Homo sapiens: one gene and its partner. The protein of the gene in region 2 interacts with the protein of the main gene of each other region in a biochemical or structural test. Each region holds a gene or a part of one and is shown on either strand. Other genes may lie near its edges. The genes, in order: ITGA8 and NPNT.

Region 1 (12,169 bases), on a different chromosome or scaffold from region 2:
CCTTGTCTTCCAGATCTGGGTAAGGAGTGTTACGATCACAGGCATATATTTTTTAAGTCATGCCATGAACAGTTTGTTTTATTCTCTGGCTTAACTCATGGCTTTAGTCTTCTCTGATGAAAAATATCTCATAAAGCCTTCCCCGTCTTACCTCCAGCCCCATCATTCTCTCACACCACACCCCGTTAGTTTCAATCCTGGCATTTATCCATCTGGCATTTATCCATTTAATTACATTCTGCTCAGTTTGCTTGATTGTTCACCACCTAGCACACCTCACTAGACTGTATGCTCATGAAGGGAGGAACTATATCTTTTTAGCTTAATACTGCATCACCAGAGCTTGCATGGTGCCTGAGACAAAATTGGTGCCCATATTTGTTAAAAGGATAAAAACAATGAATAAGTAAATCAAAATCAGGAAGCCAAGTGAGGTTGAGCAGGACATAGTCTTTGCATGGATCACAGTGACAACTAATTTGGACTTTGTCATTAGTTGGGAAAATATTATTTTTATTTTCATGGGACACTTTCTCCCTCCGAGTCTCCCTGCCTGTCTTCCTTCCTTCCATCTTTCCTTCCTTCTCCCTTCCTTCTTTCCCTCCTTTCCTTCCTCCCTCCCTCCCTCTCTCCCTGCCAGTGTTCCTTTGTTCTTTCCTTCTTTCATTCCTTGCTTCCTTCCTTTCCTCCCTCCCTCCCTCCCTTCCTTTCTGTTTCTTTTTTTCTTTTTCACCTAATGATTTGCAAAGCTATAACAAGGAAATAAAAATCTTAATAAATGTGGGAGAGATTAAATCAATGTTTGTAAACTTTTTAATAAAAAATATTTTTAAAATCCATTTGTAAGAATTATCAAAATTGTAAGGCCAAAGCATTTTTCACAAGGAAGGTTTGTATTATTCCTGGAAAATCCCACACACTTGAATAAGATCACAGACACTAGAGGGCAGTCCTAGACACCCTGTGGTTCTCCTAAAGGCAAACTAAGCACAGCAACTTAGCCTGGGGTTTTAAACACACTGTTATCAATGCATCAGTTGCTCCGGCCTTCACCCGCTTCTGCAACTGAAGGACTTCCCCACTTATTTGTAGGAGGCATTGGGTGTGTCATCTGAGTCCTGTAGCCTCCCCCAGGAGCTGAGTAAAGTGGTGTCTGGCTGCTTTAGAAGCCTATACCTCCCTGATTGTCCAGAACCACATCTATTGCTGCTGTTACCTGGGGTCCATGAAGGTGCCTGCAGCCCTGTGTTCACAGACGCCTACACTTTCAAGTCCTGGGGCGTGCACGGGTGGGAAGAATGCACCACTTCTCATCTTGCCCTTTTTGCCGAGGACCAGGGTGGTGCTGCTCTGAACCCTAGCACTTTATGGTGACTCAGTTTTTTTGTCATAAAATAAAAACCTTGAACATTCCTGCAGGCCCTCTCCCCACCCCCCACCCTTTGCACTGGACTCCAACATGAGTCCCTTGGGGAACTGGAATTCTCAATTGCCAGACTCCTAATTTACGGCTTAGATGCTATGAGTTCCCTTCTCCTCTCAAAAGTTTCCTGTAGTCCTTTTGGCCAATAGTTACTAAATGATCCAGCCCACCAACCCAACACACATGTGTAGGTCTTTCAGCATACTGGAGTGAACTGACCCTGTGGAAACATGTAAATCACTCAAGATCCTGATTACAAACTCAGCCCTCTCCACCCACAAGGGCTGTGAATCTCAGGAAGATTTATCCTCAAATGTCAATGCTTTGGAAGAACATAGCTTTCCACAGTTACCTTCCCTTTGGAGGAAGAATTCTTTTACTTTTATTTTTGTTTAAAGCAGAGCTGCTTTTCAAGGCTTGTTCTAAAAAGAGATCAAACTGGAGTCTGGTTTTGACTAGTGGGAATTTTCCTTCAGCTAAACCAACTGTTGGCTGTGCTTGAACTCCCGCCAATACAGGGGCCAGTGCTACAGCACTTTTAAGTTAAAAGTGGCTAATAAAATCATGAAGGAAAACCATAAAAGAGAATTACAAACAAAATCATCAAAAAGAAAAAAAAATGGTTTTACTATGGGTGAAATTCACCCTCCAGGGACCGAATAGAAAATTTGCAGACATAAGCTGATGTCAGCAGAGACACCTGACACATTTAAAAGTCTTTTCCCCTCAGTAAGTTTAACCATCCAGTTTCTACTAATCAGTTGTTTCTAATATTGCAGGAAAGCTGAGTTCAGTTGGGCAGAAAAAAAATCTGACATAACCTCAATTATCCATTTTCTAAGTAGAGACTGAAAAGCTACCTTCCATTCCTGGTGCATTGATTTTTAAAGCTGATGGAGCCTCCGAGCACACATTGCATTCACACTGGCTTATTCTGTAAATAGTTTAAAATATTTGAAATGTGGTTCTATTAATGAAATAATTATATTGACACTTTCACACCTCTTGATTTTAAGGCATGATCATATCACATAAAGAAATAGATTGAAACACAATCAGAAATAATAATTGGTCATTAAGTTAGACATGTTTTTGATTGAAAAGTATGCACTAACTGGTTAAATGGTCTGGCATTTCTATTTTTAAGTACTTCGTACATGGCTACAACTCAGACATCATTTTTTTCCCCTGTGGTACTCTTTACTTGTTTATTTTTGGAAAGTTTGGGCCAAATCTGTTCCATCTTTGACCTTTGGGTTCTTTTCTTTTCTTTTTAGGGAAAGAACTATGTATACCTTTCCCAGTACGAAGCATACACATATGCTCACATGGATGATAAACAACTCGCAGACTTGCTTTTCTGACAAATAAATCAGTGCTGGTAGATCTTTAAAATGTCAAACTTCTCATTCAGCATGAGACCTGTCACTGTCCATGTGTTTTTTTGACGAGTCCCCAGATCTTACCAATTGGCATGGTTCCCGTATGTCAGAATGATGAAATGTACAAGACACCTATTCAGACTTATCCCTTCTCTACAATTATTGCAATTGGGTATTTTTTTTTTCCTGGCTTCTTGGAAGGTTTACTACTCTCCCAGGCTTTTGGCCTCCCAGGGAGGTCAAAGAGCTTGGAGTTAGTTTGCGTTCCCTCCAAAACACCAAGGTGCAGCCAAACCTTTTTCCACGACCTCTCGGAAAAGTACACAGCAGCTTTATGCCATCTCTCAAGGACTAATCATAGGCATGCCCAGAGGGCAGCCCAGAATAGCTTACTACCTCTAGAAAGGTGGCTTCTCATTATTATCATGGCTTTAAAACCTGATTCCTTATAGATCTAGTAGCATGAGGAACTGGTTTTGGCATTTGATAGGGTTAAAATAGTACGACTTACTTGCCCTGTAAACATGCATATTATTTTACCTCCCCAAACTTTAATGTCCTCATCTGTAAAGCAGAAAGTGACCATATTAAGAATATAGACTTATGTAAGTCAACAGCAAGTATGTTTTAGAACACAGAAATAAGAATATACCTAATTATGTGTCAGTAAACAGATTTTTTTTCCCTTATCTACTCTATTTTTGTTGTTGTTGTTTTGAGACAGAGTCTCACTCTGTCACCCAGGCTCGAGTGCACTGGCATGATCTCGGCTCGCTGCAACCTCCGTCTTCCAGATTCAAGCAATTCTCCTGTCTCAGCCTCCTGAGTAGCTGGAATTATAGGCATGTGCCACCACACCCAGATAATTTTTGTATTTTTAGTAGAGAGGGGATTTCACTATGTTGGCCAGGCCGGTCCCAAACTCCTGGCCTCAAGATGATCCACCAGCCTCTGCCTCCCAGAGTGCTGGGATTACAGGCATGAGCCACCATGCCCAGCCTCTCACTCTATTTTTGAACAAAAAGACTAAAAAGTTTAAGAAATATGCCAAGGAAGTAAGCAAGTGGGTACAACATGGGATACCCTGGTGATGTGCTTCTCTATGCAAATCAAAGCATTGTGTAATATATAGCTAGTTCCACCTAGTAAGTCAGCACACAGGTCAGGTGCATGTCTAGGATCATTCTATCACCTTCTGCCTATTTAGATGGTTCTCATCCATCTCAGGCTAGCTTGCAATAGGACAGATTTCCAAATTTCAGCATGCCAGTGTCAGGAAATGATTGAGTTGAGGTTATTTTTCTAACCTCAGTGTCCAACACAGTTGTCAGCATTCCTATTTGTATGCTGCCCATGAATTCCTCATTGAAAATTACTGAAGGGAACACCACTTTGATGAACAATAGTAACTTGATCAGAGTAGCAGACTCTGCGTTCAAAGCAAATGAACTTTTAAAATGAGAAGCAAGTCTTCTACCATCTACTCCTAAGTCTTTACCTGGGAAAGGAATACTCAGGAAATTATCCAGACGTGACAATTTGCCAGGGAAATTTTTGATAGCTTATTTATTTGTATTATTTTTACAGGGGCATGACAAGTAAAGATATAACATTCAGATCAGTCTACTGAGTGGGTTCTGATGTAAGGGAGACAAGAAGTCCAGCTTTTCAGTAAGTTCAGAGATTTTTTTCTCTGGATAGACCCTCAAATCAATGGACAGACTGACCACTCCCGAAACTGCCATCTACATTGCTAATCGCAGGCTAGTAACTCAAATCAGTGAGCCCAGCACCTAACTCACCTTCTACTTCCCCAATCTGCTGTCCTAGCCCACTGCTACCGTTCGCTATTCTTCTTTTCTAGGTTAATACCTTGAGACACCTTGAATTTTTTTTGAGATGGAGTCTCGCTCTGTTGCCCAGACTGGAGTGCAGTGGTGCAGTCTCGGCTGACTGCAATCTCGGCTGACTGCAAGCTCCGCTTCCTGGGTTCAAGGGATTCTCCTCCCTCAGCCTCCTGAGTACCTGAGTAGCTGGGATTACAGGCACATGCAACCACACCCAGCTTTTTTTTTTTTTTTTTTTTTTTTTTTTTAGTAGAGACGGAGTTTCACCATGTTGGTCAGGCTGGTCTCAACTCCTGACCCTGTGATTCTCCCGCCTCGGGCTCCCAAAGTGCTGGGATTACAGGCGTGAGCCACTGTGCCCAGCCTGTCCCTTTTCTTTAGCATTTGTGGCCCTCCCCTCCCTTCTGTTAACCAGCTTGAGGTCCTCGCCTCCCAGTGCATCTAGGCAACACCTACTTTGCTTTCCCTTCCTTCCAACAACTACCCCCCACTCCCCACCCCTAAACTTTTGGAGCCCCAGAAGGTATGTCCCGTCTCTGCTCTAGAACTGGCTCCCTTTGCCTCAATAAATGTTATTGTTATTAAGATCCTCTTCCTGAAGATCCAGTCAACCCTATTTCCCACCACTTCCTAACCCACCCCTTTTATTCCAATCCCATGCACAACCATTTAATCTCTGTCTTTTCTAAGTATTAATACCTTCCCTCAACTTCTCCCCCCACAGTGCCCAAATGTAAGCCCCGTATTCAAAATCCTACGTAAATGTACATCTGCCACCAAATCCTCTTACATGCTTCAGAAAAAACTTAGCTCTTCTGTCTCTAAACTTCATATCTGTTTAACCTCGGCTCCTTCCGGTTTCATGCTGACCTGTTTTGTTTAATGTTAACGAATGACCATATGTTATGTAAAGGGATCTATACTCCTTTCTCTTCTCTGTCCTCCCCTACTCAAGCCTCACGTCCTCTCCGACACAGGAGACATGGGAAGAGATTGACAACACCCACGGATCAGAACCGAAATCTGAACTCCTGTAGACTGTGAACTACACCTTCTACCCCCGCAGAAAGTAAACTGTAAATTCCAACATTCTTAACTGCGCCAAACTTCATCACAATTACACAGGATGGAGATTTACTACTAAGTCATTTAATATGCCCAAGATGCCTTTAAGAAAGATTTAAATAAAATCTCAAGGGCTGGGCAAGGCGGCTTACCCTGAAATCCCAGCACTGTGGGAGGCTTAGGTGGGAGGATCGCTTGAGTCCAGGAGTTCAAGACCATGTTGAACAACATGGTGAGACCCCCATCTCCTTAAAAAAAAAAAAAAAAAAAAAAAGAAGAAGAAGAAGAAGGAGAAAGAAAGAGAAACAAAGAAAGAAAAGAAATTTTAAAAGTCAACTCGAGGTGGCAGGACGGCTTGAGGCCAGGAGATCGAGACCAGCCTAGGCCACATGAGCAGACTCAGTGTCAACAAAAAAAAATTAGAAAATTAACCAGGTGTGATGTGTCATCTGCAGTACCAGCTAATCAGGAGGCTGAGGCAGGAGGATCGCTCGAGCCCAGGAGTTTGAGATTTCATTGATCTATGATAGCACCATTGCACTCCAGCTTGGGCGAGAGAGAGACCCTATCTCTAAAAAGAAAAAAAAAATAAATAAAACAAAGCAAACCAACCAAACAAACAAAAACAAAAAATTCACACATGCACACACACAGGCGCGCGCGCACACACACACACACACACAGACACCCAACAACAAAAACAAAAAAAAACCCTCGAGGCTTTCTTGTATATGAGTTAGCTCTGCCAGGAGGTGGGGTGGACTTAGGGGAGGAGAGGGTTGTTGCATTTCAACTTTAACTCTCATCACAGACGTGCAAAGCCGTGAACGCTGAGGTCAGGCTGCAGAGGTGATGAAGAGATAATTGCTTTGCCCCTCCTGGTGGTGGGGTTGGTTTTCACATTCTCCATCCAAGCTGCGCCTTTGACACAACTGGAGCAAGCTCTCGCTCCACCTGGGGCATTGCTTCTAAAGCAATAAATAGCTTGAGGTGACAGAGACGAAACTGATTGTCCTTGAGATGGGACTGCAATAGAAATCCGGGCAGCCCGAAGAGGCACCCAGCGCTCCAGCCACCAGCTGGGCCGCCCGGGAGTCCCTGGCTCTAGACCAGCCGCGAGGAGGCGCCGCGAGAGAGCTGGTCCCTGCCCGCGGCCGGAGGAGGGCTAGAGCCCCTGGGCCAGCCCCCCGAGCCGGCTGGGCGGGCGGGCGGGTGGGAGCAGACGCCGGGCACTGTCACCACGGGTGCGCCGAGCGCACCGACCCGGGACACGGGCAGCTGGGGACCGCCAGATTCCACCAGCCCCCCTTGCCCCGCAGGGGTCCTCGGCTCGCGCTCCTGGGTAGCAGCCACCCACCGGGGCGGAGGGAGATGTCGCCCGGGGCCAGCCGCGGTCCCCGGGGAAGCCAGGCGCCGCTGATCGCGCCCCTCTGCTGCGCCGCGGCCGCGCTGGGGATGTTGCTGTGGTCCCCCGCCTGTCAGGCGTTCAACCTGGACGTGGAAAAGCTCACAGTGTACAGCGGCCCCAAGGGCAGCTACTTCGGCTACGCCGTGGACTTCCACATACCCGACGCCCGCACGTAAGTCGCCCGACCCGGGGAGGTGCGCGCGGGGACGAAGGCGCTCCCGGGTCAGGTCCCAGCGGCTCTGCCGCGGAGTCCCCCCGCAGCCTGGGATCCCCGTCCTGCCGCCTGCCCGGGGTCCCGTCCCTCTCCCCGCCACCAGCCCCTTCTCTCCCCTGCCATGCTAGATGTGCCTTGTGAATTTTGAGCTAGAGACATGCCACTTGCATAGAACACGCAAGTCCTGGGTGTTCCAGGTACCAAGACGCACGCATCCTACAAAGGAGAGAACAGGACCCAGAAGACCCAAGCCAGTTAAAACCGCCACCACAGCGAGGTCTGTTTATGCAGAGTCTGTAACCATTGCGTCTGGGCGCAAGAGCTGTCGGCTACCAGCAGCTGGGCTCTGTCCTTGGCTTCCTCCTACCCCACCCCCTTCTCTCATCTCACTGTACCCACAGAGCTCCACCTAGAGAAGCAGGACCGTTTGCATTCTTGCAAACCAGGTTGCGGACCCCCGTTTCCAAGAGGAAATCAAGTTTGACAGTCGGTCCTCATCATAAATACGTTCATGCCCTCCACGCCTGCCCCAGTGTCCCCGGGCAGGAGGTTACAGAGACTGCATTGCATGCGCACGGTTTTGTGGCGCCCAAAGAGTGACTTTCTCCAACTCTTTTGCAGAGCGAGTGTCTTGGTGGGGGCGCCCAAAGCCAACACCAGCCAGCCCGATATCGTGGAAGGGGGAGCCGTCTATTACTGTCCTTGGCCCGCGGAGGGGTCTGCGCAGTGCAGGCAGATACCGTTTGACACCACCAGTAAGTGAGATTTGTCCTTCTAAGCTGTGGGCCTGGGTTTGGAAGAACCAGGGCCATCCCAGAGGCGACTTCCCGCTGTCTTGGTGTGCTGCTCGTTTAGCTTGTCTGATATGTCCGTATTGTGGGCTATGTGGGTCTCTAGAGAAATCAGTTTTTTCAACTCTCAGTTAACTGAAGGAAGACGTTTAGTGAACCCTAGAGAAAGGACACTATTTTGACCCTGAGTGTTCGGATGCATCCTGGCAACTCCTGTTTCTTTACCTTTCTGAGATGAGCATTTTCAGGGTGAGTGGATGTTTTGGAGAAATACAAAAACTATGTCCTAACTTTGACTGTGGAGAGAATTTGGTTGCTTCTCAAGGACAGATCTGGAAAAAGAGAGATCCTTAGCGTTTCCAGTGCCCAAGCTCGGGAGGCAGGACTTAGCTGCTGCAGACCCAGACATCACTCCGCGTTGCTGTTTAATTCTTTACAGAAAGAAAGAATTTTCTTTCAAAGTATTAGACATTGAATGCAAACTAGTGCAGGCAGAGTGTGGATGGATTACATTCATTTCCAAAATCCCTAGACAGATGTTTCTTATTTAATTAAAGGGAAAATACATTTTAAACAATTCAGTCTGGTTACGTTTCCTCTGGTGTTTTCTCTTTAGAGCCTGAGAAAATAATTTAAATGCGATGCTTTCAAAAACATTAACACCGAATGCTTTAATTTTTACCACCAAAACTTTATGAATTCAAAAGGTATATATTATCAGAAAGCAAATATCTCTTTCCAGAAAAATGCGAATATGTCAGCTTGAACAATGGTCCTTGATAAATAATCGTTTAAAATACCTTGTGTACCACACAACTATTTTATGACATACTTGATTTCTTTGATTTTTAATTGTTTGATTAGTGCGTATATGGAATTTATGCGGAATATTTTCACAGAATTTCGATGAAATTGGCTGGATGATGTTTACTTGTTACTATAATTTGTATCTTTTATGTTAAAGGAGAAAACAATTTCAGTTTCATAAATATGAAAATATTTCAAAGCAAAACAGACTATACAAGCATTACCTTGAATTATGACCAAATTAGGAAAGTATTTTATAAAAGCATTGGAAAATTATATTTTTATCATGCCTGTCTATATATGGTCACAATAGCTTATCATTTTATTAAATATTCTGTTATTTTATACCAGTTTTTATAAGCTTTTACTTTTAAATTTGAGTATTAGCAACCAGGAAGATTAAACCTTTTGATGTTAATTTGTGACAGAAATCTTTTAATTAGTTATTTTATCAAGACTTGAGACACTTTCTAGCTACTGCTCTCTAGTTTAAGAATAAGCTTCGTAAACCAAAAGAATTAAACATTTAAACACAAAATTAATGCCATTTTAATAATTCATATCCGAATCATTTGTATTTTTAAAAGTATTTTAAAGCAGGCCAAATAAAGACATGAATCATTAACATTATTTGAATTTACATTAAGGAAAGTATATTTTGAGACATGGTTGATGTGTTTTCACCAAGAAGCAATTTATGGTCGTGGAAAAGAATTTAATAATCTTCTTGTATAGTCTCATAACATCAAATCAGGATCTGATTAGTATTTTTTTCTTTTGATAAAGGAAGAATCAATGTCTGCCCTGATAAGTTACAACTGACTTACTTTGTAAGTACTCATCCCAATAGATGTCATAGGCCAACAGATTAAAAACCAGAGAATCCAGATGTCAACTATGAATTCAAAAAATAACTGACCACTCCTAACTGAAAATTTTCAATATTAAATTACAATAGGTAGGCCAGGCGTGGTGGCTTATGCCTGTAATTCCAGCACTTTGGGAGGCCGAGGCAGGTGGATCACTTGAGGTCAGGAGTTCAAGACCAGCCTGACCAACATGGTGAAACCCCATCTCTACTAAAAATACAAAATCAGCCGGGCCTAAGGGTGTAATCCCAGCTACTTGGGAGGCTGAGACAGGAGAATTGCTTGAACCCAGGAGGGAGAGGTTGCAGTTAGCCAAGATTGCACCATTGCACTCCAGCCTGGGCAACAAGAGTGAAACTCCATCTCAAAAAAAAAAAAAAAAATACAATAGGTTATATTTTCCAAGTTCATTCTAAAGCAATTGCTTGAAGCCTTGAATTCACTCTCCCATACAGAACTAATGCTGAAAGATGTGCTTTGGTTTCCAGAATAGCCCACAGGAATGCATTTAACCCTTATTGTAGCTGAATTATATTTGCAGTAAAACAGTAGGGGACAAACTAGAACAAGTTGGCAATTAAACAGAAAAATAATGTCCAGAAAATGTCAGTGTTACTTGGAGAAGACAATGTCCTCTTTTGTGTAGGTTAGGAAAATGTCTAGATATCTCAAAGGGCTTTAGAGATTGATGCTGCTCATTCCACACTATGTCTTATTTTACTTCCAAATATATAGTGGTTTACTTGATAAATAGATGAATGCACTAATCCTACTATTATACTTATCAACTACAATCATAATAATTTCAGAATTCACAAATGGAACAAAGTGAGAGAAAGAAAGGGGAAGAAAAATCAATGTTCCTGAAATAATTGAACAGGAAATTTAAAAAGCAAGGCAGGAAAGGCTACACAAGTTTGTGAGAAATGAATGGTCCATGACAGAATGAACAAGGCTGTGACCTGTGAAAGACAGGGAGGTCCCACTGGGGAGGAGAAAGGAATTGTTGGGAAAAGAAAGTTCCCCATGTCGGCCATCAGGGGGTACTATGGGCCCAGAAACCTTGATTGCCAGTGGGAATGGCCTGAAAATGGGTGTGGGGAAGGAATCCACAGGGTCACAGCTCAGGTGTTTGCTACCAAGTGGTTGCTCACCCTCTATACCTCATCTGTGCCAATTGCTTTGTCCTTATACCCTCAGATAGTGGAACTGGCAGTGGCAGCTACTTGATGCAATGCTGTGCAAGTGAAGAAGGCACAGCAGATGCCAGTGTAGCTATTTCCATTCTGAACATCCACTTCGTGGACAAAGTAGAATGTTAAAACGAAAGATGAAAGGTGGAAACAGACATCACTGGCTCTGGGTCCTGAAGTCAGTGTTGCCAGAGGCATCCCATTTACAGATCGCTACTATGTACCAGACACGGTACACACATTGTTTCTACTACATAAAACAAATCAAAACAACTATGTAAAACTCATTCTGTAAATAAGGAAACTGACATCAAAGGTATACCCAAGACCGTACAGTGGTAGGTGGTAGAGGCAGGACTGGAATAGAGGTCTGCCCAGTTCGCAGCCTGCTTGTTCCCCTCACCTTCCTTCCAGAAATGGGGAGAGGATTGACCCTGATAGACTGCAAGTTCAGGATTATGACTAAGCCCCCAAGGAGCTTTGGAAGGCTATATTTGCCTTCCCTCCCTCTCCTCCATTCCCCTACTCCAGCAGTGGCTTTACAATTCCATTTTAAATTATTCTCCAGAGAGGGGTTGGAAAGGATAAACAGTTTTGGTGGAAGCATTGTAGAAGCAGGGTTTGTCTTGGTGGGAATGATGGGTCGCATATGCCCCTGGTTTGCTCAGACTCCCACAGAATGCCCCTTCATGGTCTCTGATAAGCTGCCTCCTGAGTTACTCTCTGCTCAGTGCCAGTAACGTACTGTTCTCCCCCGAAAAAAAGGAAGAAAAGTTCTCTGCTTAACTAAGTAGTGGCCCCAAATTGACATCCGCATAATGGAGTGTGATGTGTCAGGCATAAAAATGTATATTGCAAATATTCATCTGTCAAGACATCAGTGACTTTCCTGGTCTTTTACCCTACTTTTACTACGACATCTGAATTCAAGACATCCTAAGTAAATTTGACCTTTCAATGAAGTTGTTTCAACTTGTTCAGGTCCCTGGGGTGTCTACAATTGGGTATTCTGCTCTGGTAACCAACTAAATTCTCTCAGCTTAGACTTTGAAGGAGACAGCCCTATAACTGAGTCCCAGAGTCCAGTTGAGATCCTGTTCCTCCATTTATTTAAGGTCAATTGCCATTTTCTAAAAACTGCCTTTCAGGTTTTTTTTCATGAAATAATCA
Region 2 (11,574 bases):
AGCCATGCATAGATAGCTAAATATAATTTTTATCAATACATTCTAGATATTCTGTAATTTCAGTTGTTATTTATAATTTTTTATTTTGACTTGAACACTGAATCTAATCTTGTCTCACCTCTAAAGTACTTTGCTTTTGAAGTCATTTTCTCTTTTCAAGACAGTAGAATCAGACTCTCATCCTCACCATCCCACTAAAACTAGCCTTATCAAGATCATCAGTGATCTCCTTGTCAAGTCTGATGATCACTTCTTAGTCCTGATCTTATTTAACCTTTCTATCTTTGGCTTATAAGACAATATACTTGCTTGAGTTTCCTATTACACCCCTATCTCCTCCTTTTCATTTTCCTGGGTTTCTTCCCTACTTAAATTTTGGAACATCCTTAGTTCTTAGTCCTTAGTTCTCTTAATTAGACTTCTTCTCTCTCCCTCCACTCTCTTCATTCTACATCTACATTCACTGTCTCTCATCCAGTCCCAGGGACTTAAATACTGTTGTGACTAACAATTTACATCTTGAGCCCTAGGCTCTCCGAGTTGCAGAGTTGTGCAGCATACTGCCTATTTGACTTCTCCACTTGAATGTCTATAAGACATCTTACACTTCACTTGTCTGAAGTATAACTTCACATAATAGTCTGTGGTGGTGACTATTAGTTGCTCTCTAAATTCTGCTCTTCCTTCTTCCATAGTGATAGAAGGTTGAGTTAATGACTAGGCTATATTTTCCAGTCTCCCTTGCAATTGCATGTGACTATCTGATCTAGTTCTTTCCAGTGAAAGGGAACAGCATTAATAGGTGCTATTTCCTGGCTCTAGTCCTTACAAGAACAATTGTGCCTCCTCCATACTTCCTTTTCCTCCATCTCACTAGCTAGAATGGTAACTATTAGAGTGACTGTGAAGGTGAGAGAGTCACTGTCAGGCTGGGACCTGAAAGACCTCATGGAACAGAGCTGTCCACCAACCTGATACACTCTCTTCAGACTGTTACATGGTGAAGAAATAATTTCTATCTTTTGAAAGTCATTATATTTTGGGGCTCTTTGTTGTAGCATTTTAACCTTTCACCTTAACTGACATAGAAATTGGTACCAGAAAAGATGCTTTCTTAATTTAAAACCCTGCATTTTCTTAATGGTCAGGCAAATTTGCAATTAAAGATATAGGTAGGGGGGCAGAGCAAAGAGTTTTTTTGCTCTGTTTATGATGGGAAGTCATTGGAGGGATTATTCAGTTGGACTGTGGTTTTACAAGGCATAACTATAGCTGCTCTGTGTAGGCTAGAAAGCTGGTGATGCTTATGCTATTTCATAAAATTGTTATCTATAATAACTTGGAAGGCACATCACATATCCAAGTCAAAGGAATATAGTTGTAAAAATGAGAATGTTAGCGTACTTCACTGTTCTTTGTTGATTTAAGTAAGGTATCATAAGAAAGATGAACTCAGGCAAGAACTGGCTGCTTTGCAAGCAGAAATGGAAGGAAGTGAGAATGTCCAGAAATTAAGGGCCTCTCAGGGCTGAAGAAGACAGCTGTTTTTGTGACCCAAACATTAATAAAAATGCAGGGATCCAAGCCTTGTGGCAAGGATCAGAGTAAGGTATCGCCCTCCTAAGCAACACTATTATTTCAGCTAGCCTCAAGGTGGCCCTCCATTAAGATGAGAAAGTAAAGTATGGATACAAGGAAGCAAAGAAATAGAGCAGCCTTCAGAACTAGGACTAGAAAAGACTTTGCTGTTATTTCCACAAGCAACTGACTGGAAGCAATTAGATCAGAAGCCTATTACGGTTTTAAGGAAATCTAGTTGCCACAGAAACCATGAATCTGTTAGCTCCTTAAAGCAATACTCAAGCCTTCAAATTTTTATCAGCAGAAAAGGGGTTGTGAATGATATGCAGCCCCCTAGGAAGGCATTTTCTGTAACAGTCACTTCTGATATGGCTATGGAAAATTATGGACAAGGTAGTTCCTCTAAGAGAAGCAGAGTATCCCAAATGTCTAACCAAGGCACTTTCTGCACTGCCAGAACAGAGAGTCTCCATAATTCTTGCTCAGCTGTGAGTCAAAATTGCTGTGAACAAGAAGCTATGTGTATCTTTATCTTAATAGGAGCTTTTAAAAGCAGTCATCCTATGCCTGTGCCACTACTGTGTATGGGGTGTGGGAAGAGAGGGAGCAATATCTTGTTTAATGGTTTGTATGACACCAACTATGAGAAGTCATTTCAGAGCTTGATAGAGAAAACACACCGCTCTACTGTCTGCGTGGACATGGGCTGCATCCCACACCCTCACGTGGCTCTCTCCCTCACTTCATTCAGTCTCTGCTCAAATGTTACTTCCCCAAAGGTGACCAAAGCACTCCATCTACAATCACACCTCCATCATTTTCTACAACCGTAACCTCCCTTTATCCTCTCCTTACTCCTTTTTTCTCTACATAGTCCTTCTGTATTGCTCCCCCACTGGAATGTAAACCCTTTCAGGGCAGGACTTTGTCTTGTCCTTAGCTGAAATCCTAGCACCTAGCTAGAAATGGCCAATACATTATAGGTCCTTAATAAATATTTACTGAAAAGAAAAAAGACTATGAGCTTCTAAATTTGAAAGGTCTGAAGTTGTGTTTGTTTGATTCTGTTTTGCTATTTATCTGTATCACATTATGAATGGTCACAGAAAATTATTTGTGCACGAGAAAATTGAGATTACTACCTGCAAGGTGTCATTACCTGGTAAGAAGCCTATCAAAAGTTTGTCCTCCTGAAAAAGTAGTTATTGCTAAAAGCTAGCTGTTTTGATCTCATTCTTGCTCATTTGTTTTTAAGACTGAGATAATGAAATGTCACTCCCATGGCAACTCTGCCTCTTTTTCGGAATGATCATTGGTGGTCATAGTTGCAGCATAATAACCAGTTAGACCTTGGAAATCCTTTAGATTCTCCTTATTCCATGATTTAACAAAGACTGATATAATTAGCTACATTTTACTGAAGGGAGAAGCTAAAGTTCACAGGCAGAATTCAATTTAATCCAATCCATCTGTTTAATCTTTGCTGAACTTAAGCTTTGTGCCAGGCATTGTGCTGGGGATAAGGGATATAGTGACAAGACAGACACTGCCCTGGCCCTTCTATTGGTTAGACTAATGTCTCACGGGACCCAGAGTGGTAGGGAGGCAATGACAACACAATACATTAAGAGCTACCTTAGAGCATGCTAAGTGTAATAGAAGTATATAAAACACTAGTCTCAGCCAATCAAAAAGTCAGAAAAGGCTTCCTGGGGGACTGTCGGCTAAATTTAAACTCAAAGGGTAAGGGGAGATTGTCCAAATGAAGAAGGAAGAGGAATGAAGAGGAGGCTAAATTTAAATGAAGAAGGAGTGTTTTCTAGGCCAAAGCAAATATATGGAAAACAAAAGAAAGACGCATGTAGATGGGGCATTACACTTTTCCCTCCAGTTATTTATCCTGTTTTCATCCACCACTCTTCGTCTTTTCCTTAGATCTCCAGTTTTTTAGCCGTATATTACCCCCTTTCTCTCTAATCATCCATTGCACACAGTGAGGTTTATTTGTAAATCTAACCCAGGCACCAACTAACCAACCAACAAACAAAAACAGCTAAGGAGTAGCCACTGGAACCTGGAACCATGCCTACACTTACAAAAATTTGATTTTCTGCAGAAAAAATATTTTGACTCCTACATTTTTGGACTTCATTAGAAGGACCTGAAATGGATGACACCAAGCTGTTTGCCTAAAATAATGTCCCAAGCCTGAATTGGCATGGATCTTTCTTGAGATTAAAATAGAAACTTGTTTTGCTAACTGAAAACAACTTAGAAATCAAAGAGCCATTTAAGTTGAAACCATTATTTTTCCTTTCCTTGAAGAAAATTCCTGTTTTTACACACACTGAATGATCAGGATAGTGAATCACCCTACCACAGAACTTTCCATTAAAAATTTGAAGTTGTAGAAACCTCAAAAAGAAAATGAAGATGGGGGGAAAACGTTTGTAATGTAGCAAATGAATTGAATAAACATTTATGAGCACCTACTATGTGCCAGGCAGTGTTCTAGGTGATAAAGATACCTGCCTTTGTACAGCTTGCATTCTAGCGGAAAGAAAACATACAAACAAAAAATATGCAAGTTATATAGTAATATAAAAGATGAGTGGTATGGAGAAAAGACAAAGTAGGACAGGCCAAGGATCATCAGAAGGAGGGCAAGTTAGAGGTTTAAATAGGATGGTCATGACTGGCCTCTTCAAAGAGGTGTGACATTTGAGCAAAGACTGAAGGAAGTGAGGGCGTGTGCCATGTAGATATTTGCAGAGGGCAAGTTGCAGTTTTAAATAGGATGATCATGATTGGCCTCCTGGAAGAGGTGACATTTGAGCAAAGACTGAAGGAAGTGAGGGTGTGAGCCATGTAGATATTTGGGTCCAGATAGAGAAAACAGCCAGTTACTGGCCCCAAGGCAGGGGCATGCCTGGAACATGCAAGAAAGGCAAGGAGGCCATGGACTGGAGGAAGAGAAATGAGGACATTGAGAGGTACGGGAGATGACAGATGATCACTGCACAAGGCTGTCATTCGAGGTAAGGTTGGGAAGAGGGGTGACTTGATTGGGCTCATGTACATCTTAGGATAATCATGTTTTCATTTGAACACAGTCATTTAGTACAATACTTTTTACTCTGCAACAACTGAACAATGATTACTTAAAATGGTTTCTAAGTGATCCCCTCAAGATCAGGCACCACAACACTACTAGGCAGTAGCAGCCCTTCCTCTCTGGCAGGCACTCATCCCTAGAGGGGCAGTCCTGTCCTAATGTGCTCGGGAGTTGAGCTGATAGAGACAGAAACAGTCTGCTCATTTCTTCTTCAAAACCCGACTGGAGAGCCAAATATTTCTTTTGGTTAGTTACAAAATAAAAAATATGCCTTTGCCAACTCTGCGGGAAAAGCAAACTCCCAGAGTTTGCCTTCGCTAATTTGTCCAAGTCGTGCTGTGGTTTTAGTAAATGCAGACACTGCTCAGCTCCAGCCCCATAAACCTCTCTGCTCTAGGGCTTCTCCGCCCTCCGGTGAAAGCTACTGCTCGCCCCTGCAGTCACCACCTGTTCGGGCGGAACCTGCGGAGCGTGCACCTACGCCTCGGGCTCCTTTCCTCCTCCACTCCCCTTTCCTGCTGGGCACCCTGCTTTCCCTCTCCCAGAGAGGGTTTGCAACTTTTCTCCCAGGCTGGGGCTCGCCCTGCTTGGCTAACCCCCAAGAGCCACTGCCGTCCCGCAGCGCCCCTGCCCCCGAGTTGCCTGCCCCGCTGGGCCCCCGGGAGGAGCGGAGCGCGCTCACCCTTCGCCCGGGGCTGGGAGGGCGGCGAGTCGGGCGCACGCGCACCCCCTGCCCGCCCCTGGCGCCCCTCCCCGCGGGCGGTGCAGCTACCCCTGCAGCGCCTCCCCTAGCTAGAAGGGAGCGGGAGGGGGCTCCGGGCGCCGCGCAGCAGACCTGCTCCGGCCGCGCGCCTCGCCGCTGTCCTCCGGGAGCGGCAGCAGTAGCCCGGGCGGCGAGGGCTGGGGGTTCCTCGAGACTCTCAGAGGGGCGCCTCCCATCGGCGCCCACCACCCCAACCTGTTCCTCGCGCGCCACTGCGCTGCGCCCCAGGACCCGCTGCCCAACATGGATTTTCTCCTGGCGCTGGTGCTGGTATCCTCGCTCTACCTGCAGGCGGCCGCCGAGTTCGACGGGAGGTGAGCTGGGCCCCGGGGCGCCCTCTCCTCCTTCCCGCGCTAATTTCACACTCACTGTCTTGGGTCACTTTTCCCCGCGGGGTTTCGTGGTCAGAGAGGCGTCTCCTCCATCCAGAAGTTGGGCCACCGCACAGCGTGGCGCGAGGAGAGCGGTCCAGCGGCTCCGAGTGCCCGCCCGAGGCGGAGAGGGCGCGCCCTTGCGAGTCTGGGACCCCATCCGCGGCCCCCCGAGGGCGACTCGCCCCGGCTCGGGAATTAGGACTGAGGGAGAGGAGCCGCTGGAGCCTGGGATCTCGGCTCTGAGGGCGCGGTTTAGCCACCTACGCCGAGGTGACGCGCGAAACATCCCTTACCCGGGAAACTCCCGCGCCTGAACTAGACGGCTCTTCACTGGGGAAGCTTCCAGGCCCCCGGGGGGAGGCCCGGGCTCTGCTCAGGGCTCTCGGGGCCGCTCACACAGAGAGTGGGTGCGAGTCAGCGACTGGGCTACGGGGGAGATTTGTGGGCCTCTCCATTTGGTTTTCTTGAGGGAAGGAGACTCAAAATGAGGACCGGAGGGTGGGCGCTCCGTGAATGTGAGCATGAGTGTGTGGATGTGTGTGTGAGAGCGCACACACTGCGCCGCTCCTCAGACTCGGGCGAGCCTGACGGCGGCGTGCTGTGACAGGTTCCAACAACCTCGGGCCGCGTCTCCGCTGTCACTCAGCCGGTCCTCCCGCGCTCCGGGGCCGCTCCGGTGTGTGAGAGACACTGGGTCTGTCGGGAGGGTGTGCTCGGTCCCCCTCACCTCTGTGCAATTACAGACTAGGCTCGTCCCGGGTGCAGATGGCTGCTGCGAAAAGAGGTTTTACTCTGGCGCACACCGTCGCCCGGTCGCCTTCCTTCAGCGACCTCTGCCCCCACCCCTCCGTGTAGGTCCCTGCCTAGTCCTAAAGAAAGATGCCGCACCTGTTTTACCTTTAATCTTGGAACGAATCAATTCCACAATTGATTCGCTTTCTTGTACCCGGAGGCGAACGGAGGGGAACCAGTGGAGCGCCAAGAAAAAGCACAGCTGCTTGTTCACTACCTGGTCGGAGGAAATAGAAAGTTCGGGGTTATTTTGTACTTTGGGCCTGGGGGTAGAAAGGCAGGTAAAAGAAAAGGGGAATTGAAAAAGATAAGGAGACTTTAAGAAAACGTGATAGCAGCCAGAGTGTAGACCTTTTTATTTTATTTTTAAAAGCAATTCTGTGCTCACATTTGGGTATGTTATGCATTTCTTGCACACATATTTGCAACAAGAAACCCATCACAAGATATGCATATGATGTGAATGCATATAGCTTTTTGTAACTTTAAAAAGATGTCTAAAACAGCAAATTAAAATGTTGATACCCAGAGGAAAAAAGTCATTTAGGTGTGACTCTAAACAAGGAAACAATTTAGCAAATAATGTGTCAACGTGTAATCAGGTGGATAAATCTGTATCCTGAAATTACTTTCTTTAGGCATTATTTACATTAGAGAGGAAAATACTATGAATTGTTGATCTAAGCACGTTTCAAACCACAAGGATACTTGAGATATCAGCTACACTTTAAACTCTCCTTGGTTTTATTTAGACTTTTTTCTAGTACTTTTTTGTTTTTTTTGTTTCTGCCACAGTTATGTCTCAAAAAGAGCTCTGTTACACTTGATTTTTGAGAAACCTTTCTGCTCCTTCCCCCATCCACCTTTTATATGAGGCAGAAATTTTTTCTGCTTTGACATGTCTTACTTAATACTTTTCAGTTTATGGTGAATCAGTCAAACCTGGCTTTCACCCCAGTAACAGGTGTGGGTCTTTGAGGAATCTGTTTTATTTCAAGCTTCAGAAACTATCCTGTGAGTGGCAGCCTTGAGAATTGTTGGTGTTAGCTGGTGCTATTTCTACTTAAGAAAGCATCTTTCCCTCCCGTTTTTTCTCCTACCCTTGTGTGTTGGGGGATGGGGTATTTAACTGTCTGAAATTTGACATTAGATCATAGCAGAACTATTTCTGTGAAGGTGTTTTAACCTTAAATTTCTGCAGGCATAAAAGAGTTTGTAGAAAATTGTTGGGTGTGGTTGACATTTTTTCTGAAGTAATAATACAGAGGAAATTACCTTTCTTCTCAAAAGTGTCCTTATTTATTTTGAATCTTTTTTTTTGGTAGGTGGCCCAGGCAAATAGTGTCATCGATTGGCCTATGTCGTTATGGTGGGAGGATTGACTGCTGCTGGGGCTGGGCTCGCCAGTCTTGGGGACAGTGTCAGCGTGAGTATCAAGCCTGGGGACTTCAGTTCCCTGGGAGGTGTGGCTTTCCACCTTGTTCATGGCTTCACCCCACATATCAGAGGGTTCATTACTGAGCAAGGCTTGGCCTTGCAGGTCTGACTTGGGGATTTTCAGGTACAGTCCAGACTCCTTATTCTGCTTCTTTTCAGCTTTAGCCACCTGTATTACGGCCCAGCTTTGTCATTCACAGAGAGCCACCTTAAATGTTTCTTTTAGCATTTTTCCCCCCAAATCTGCATCTCCTTCCTGTTTTCTTACCAGGTTTATTTCTCTCTCTCTCTCTCTCTCTGTCTCTCTCTCTCTCTGTCTCTCTCTCTCTCTCTCTCTCTCTCTCTCTCTCTCTCTCTCTCTCTCTCTCGCTGACTCGCTTGCTCCAGGCTGGGAGATGGGGATAAGATAATGAGTCTAGACCGTATTTACACTGGGGATAAGATAATGAGTCTAGACCGTATTTACACAAAATAAACTCTGAACCTTAGAGTACTTATATAATCCTCACCATAGCTGTTGTGTAAAGTGGCCCATTTGTAAATCCTTTTTTGGACTGGGGTTGTATTGACAGTGTTTTAAATGGACCACCCAGTATAATGAAACAAAGCCACTGAAACAACATTATTTGTAAGTTCTATAAGTAACCAACCTCATGTAATAAGTACCAAATCAGAAAGCTGATTTTCACCTTTTCTGTGACCACAAATGGATATTTTAATGGTAAAATTTAGAGCTACATCAAAAGAGTTTGAGAAATTTAGGAAATTTGTCCCCAGCATTTTATCGCGATCTTAAAATTGTATCTCACTCCTACTGCAAAAAAATAGTCTTCAAATGATCAAGTACCTTTCCAGAGCACCCTTAGAGTGCTTGGGGCGGGGGTAGGGGGCACTTCTGGTAAGATGATGGGAACTAAGTTGGGTTCTACATTGGGATATATATTTTATTGCTAATGAGGAGGAGGCTTAGAGGAAGAGAGAAGGGCAGTTACGAAGGCTAGAGCTGGCAATGGAGAAGCCTGCCTTAGAGATGGGTTGCTAGTGTGAGGAGTCAGGCAAATTTAAGTTCAGGAAAGTTAGGAGTTCCCTCTGCTATTTTAATTTTTGAGGATGCTTGCAATGTCTTCCTTAATTTTGTGAAAGAGGGACAGTGACAGTCACAGATTGACTCTAATTGCACATAAAGACCACAATCTCTGGTTGGGAATAGAAAGGTAAAGGAAATGAATGTTTGCCTACCTGGTATGGAATTTGAGAACCAACAGATTCTAATAACCAAAATGTGAAGAAAGGACCCTTCTGTTGGCCCAACACACCTACACATAACCCTCCTGAGTGAAAAATGAGTAGTTCTATACCTGCAGTCTCCAGCTGTGCAAATACTTCTGATACTACAGAAGACTAAATTCCACCAGGCACCATTCTTCTTTTTTGATCATCTTCCCTTAAAACAATATTGAATAGACTAACCAGTGAGTGTACAGCAGCTTTGCCTACTTCTTTTGTTTACTGGAAACTGGAGTTACCACCATCTCCCTTTAACAGAATGTAATTGACCCCCCGTGCAAAGGGTCTAGCCAAGCAGCTCGCACATAGCAGTTAGGCAAACATTCGTTTGCTTCACCTTTTATGTTTATACTTCCAAAATCAAAGTAGTTCCAAGGTTTTCTATGTTACAGTGAAATAAAATCCCTTTCAATTAAAAAGGCACAAATGGTTCTTTACTATTAACATTGAAGTTGGTGAGGTTGTAAAAATTAGCTCAAAGGTGAATGTTTCCTTCTGTGTATTTTATTTTTCCAGCATCTTAGATGGCGCAAATGTCTCTTGTCAGTTCAGAGTTCTGCCTGTCTTTGTTTTGATATAAGCAGGTAGAGGAATGTGGGGCTGAGAAGTAAGCTTGAAGGGGCAGAACAAACCAAAAAGAGGCTGATCAGATTGAATGAAATATCTCTGAAAACTCTTGATTATTTTAAAGAAAGTCTTTATGAAATTAAAAGTTTTGTCACTACGTTTGTTCAAGAAAATGCCTTGCTATTGTATAACAATTCAATCTAATATGATTCCTTATAAAGATTCCAAAGAACTTCTAGCGAATTTAATGTGAGAAATGTTTTTGCCTTTTCGACCTTTAGATAATCATGTAGTTCTTTCCCATAAGGAAGGGCTATTCTCCCTTCCTCATCAGAGGTGCTCTGGTTCTCTTCTTTTCTGAATGATTCACTTTGGAATTTTCCTTCAAAACAGCATAGCAAAACAAAAAGAAACTATTCCCATTACTGCATAGATCTTCCCAACTTATCCCATAGAAGGTGTGTTTGTAGGTAGGGAAAGGTGGTGGTACCCTCATTATATTATTTAACAGACCTTATGCCTTAGTGCAGTGACCCTTTGGTGAGTGTTTATTCCGTTTGGTTGAGCATTTGTGAGATGTTTGACTTAATATTCATGTGAGTCAAATGTACGTATCTGTACAAAACATGCTGCCCTTCATTTTCACTTGCTATCTTCCTATCCATGGTCTTGTTTGGAGAAACCGACTAATGTTGCAGGATGCTAAAGCTGGTAGACCTCTCCTTCTGGCTCACTATGTCTAAGCAGAGCCAGATATAGCTGGGAAACTTTATATCCTTCCCTCTAGGACTCAGGAAGGAAGGATCAGAGATGCTACTCAAATGGGCATAGAACCTGTCCTGCTGCTTCCTGCCTGTACCACCCAACATTCTATCCCAACATTCCTGCCTGCTAGGGAAAGCATGACCCGTTCCAGAAATAGGCAGGTTGTGTTTTCATAGTTCTTTTGTAGGTCATACCCTTGGTTGTTTTTTTTTTTTTTTTTTTTGATTCTTTGTTTTGTGTTCTTGACTCTTAAACAGATCTCTAGCATATTGAAAATTCAACATTTGATTTTCTAACTGTCATGGGCTTTACTTTTATTGACTATTGATGTGGCTGTTTATTGTCAGGTGAAAATTTTTTAATATGTTCACACACTGATGATTGCATATTTGCAGCACACAGCATCTTAAACCACTCAGAGGTTTGTCACAAAATGTGTGTTTCTTGCTCTGTAATTTTTTTGTCATTTTGATGGCATATTTTAATTATGCTTTTATTTCTCTCCTTCTACCAAGTGGAGACCTCTGTAACAAAGATTTTTCAGGGTTGCATATTTCATCTTTAAAAGCTGTGTACACTGTGGAAACAATTGTTAACCAAAAGCACTAGATAATTTAGGATAACTGAGTTCAAGTTCTGACTTTTGTACCTGAATAGGTGTCTAACATTTCTCAGCTACAGTTTTCTTATTACACAAGCATATTTCCAAGGTATGTTGAAGCTCTAAACTGCAACTGAAAACTTCCTTAATGTAGAAAAACTATATAGGATCTAAATATTGTATTTTTGTATGGTTGTCCTTCTGTTTACTCGGAGATTTGACTGTATATGTGGCTTATGACAATAGCATTTTTGTTAAAAGCATTTTATAGAAGTGTGAAGAAAAACTAAAA

The links.
Region 1: the proteins of NPNT (region 2) and ITGA8 form a complex in vitro, tested with the Homo sapiens proteins (one study listed by BioGRID).

Annotation. Positions count from the first base shown.
Region 1 is NC_000010.11:15,714,691-15,726,859, reverse strand, and holds the start of ITGA8 (integrin alpha-8 isoform 1 preproprotein), read left to right. Parts: upstream 1-6,937; 5' UTR 6,938-7,088; coding exon 7,089-7,297; intron 7,298-7,960; coding exon 7,961-8,094; intron 8,095-12,169. UniProt on the Homo sapiens protein: Integrin alpha-8/beta-1 functions in the genesis of kidney and probably of other organs by regulating the recruitment of mesenchymal cells into epithelial structures.
Region 2 is NC_000004.12:105,889,951-105,901,524, forward strand, and holds the start of NPNT (nephronectin isoform B precursor), read left to right. Parts: upstream 1-5,520; 5' UTR 5,521-5,702; coding exon 5,703-5,773; intron 5,774-7,947; coding exon of another isoform or gene 7,948-7,950; coding exon 7,951-8,051; intron 8,052-11,574. UniProt on the Homo sapiens protein: Functional ligand of integrin alpha-8/beta-1 in kidney development. Regulates the expression of GDNF with integrin alpha-8/beta-1 which is essential for kidney development.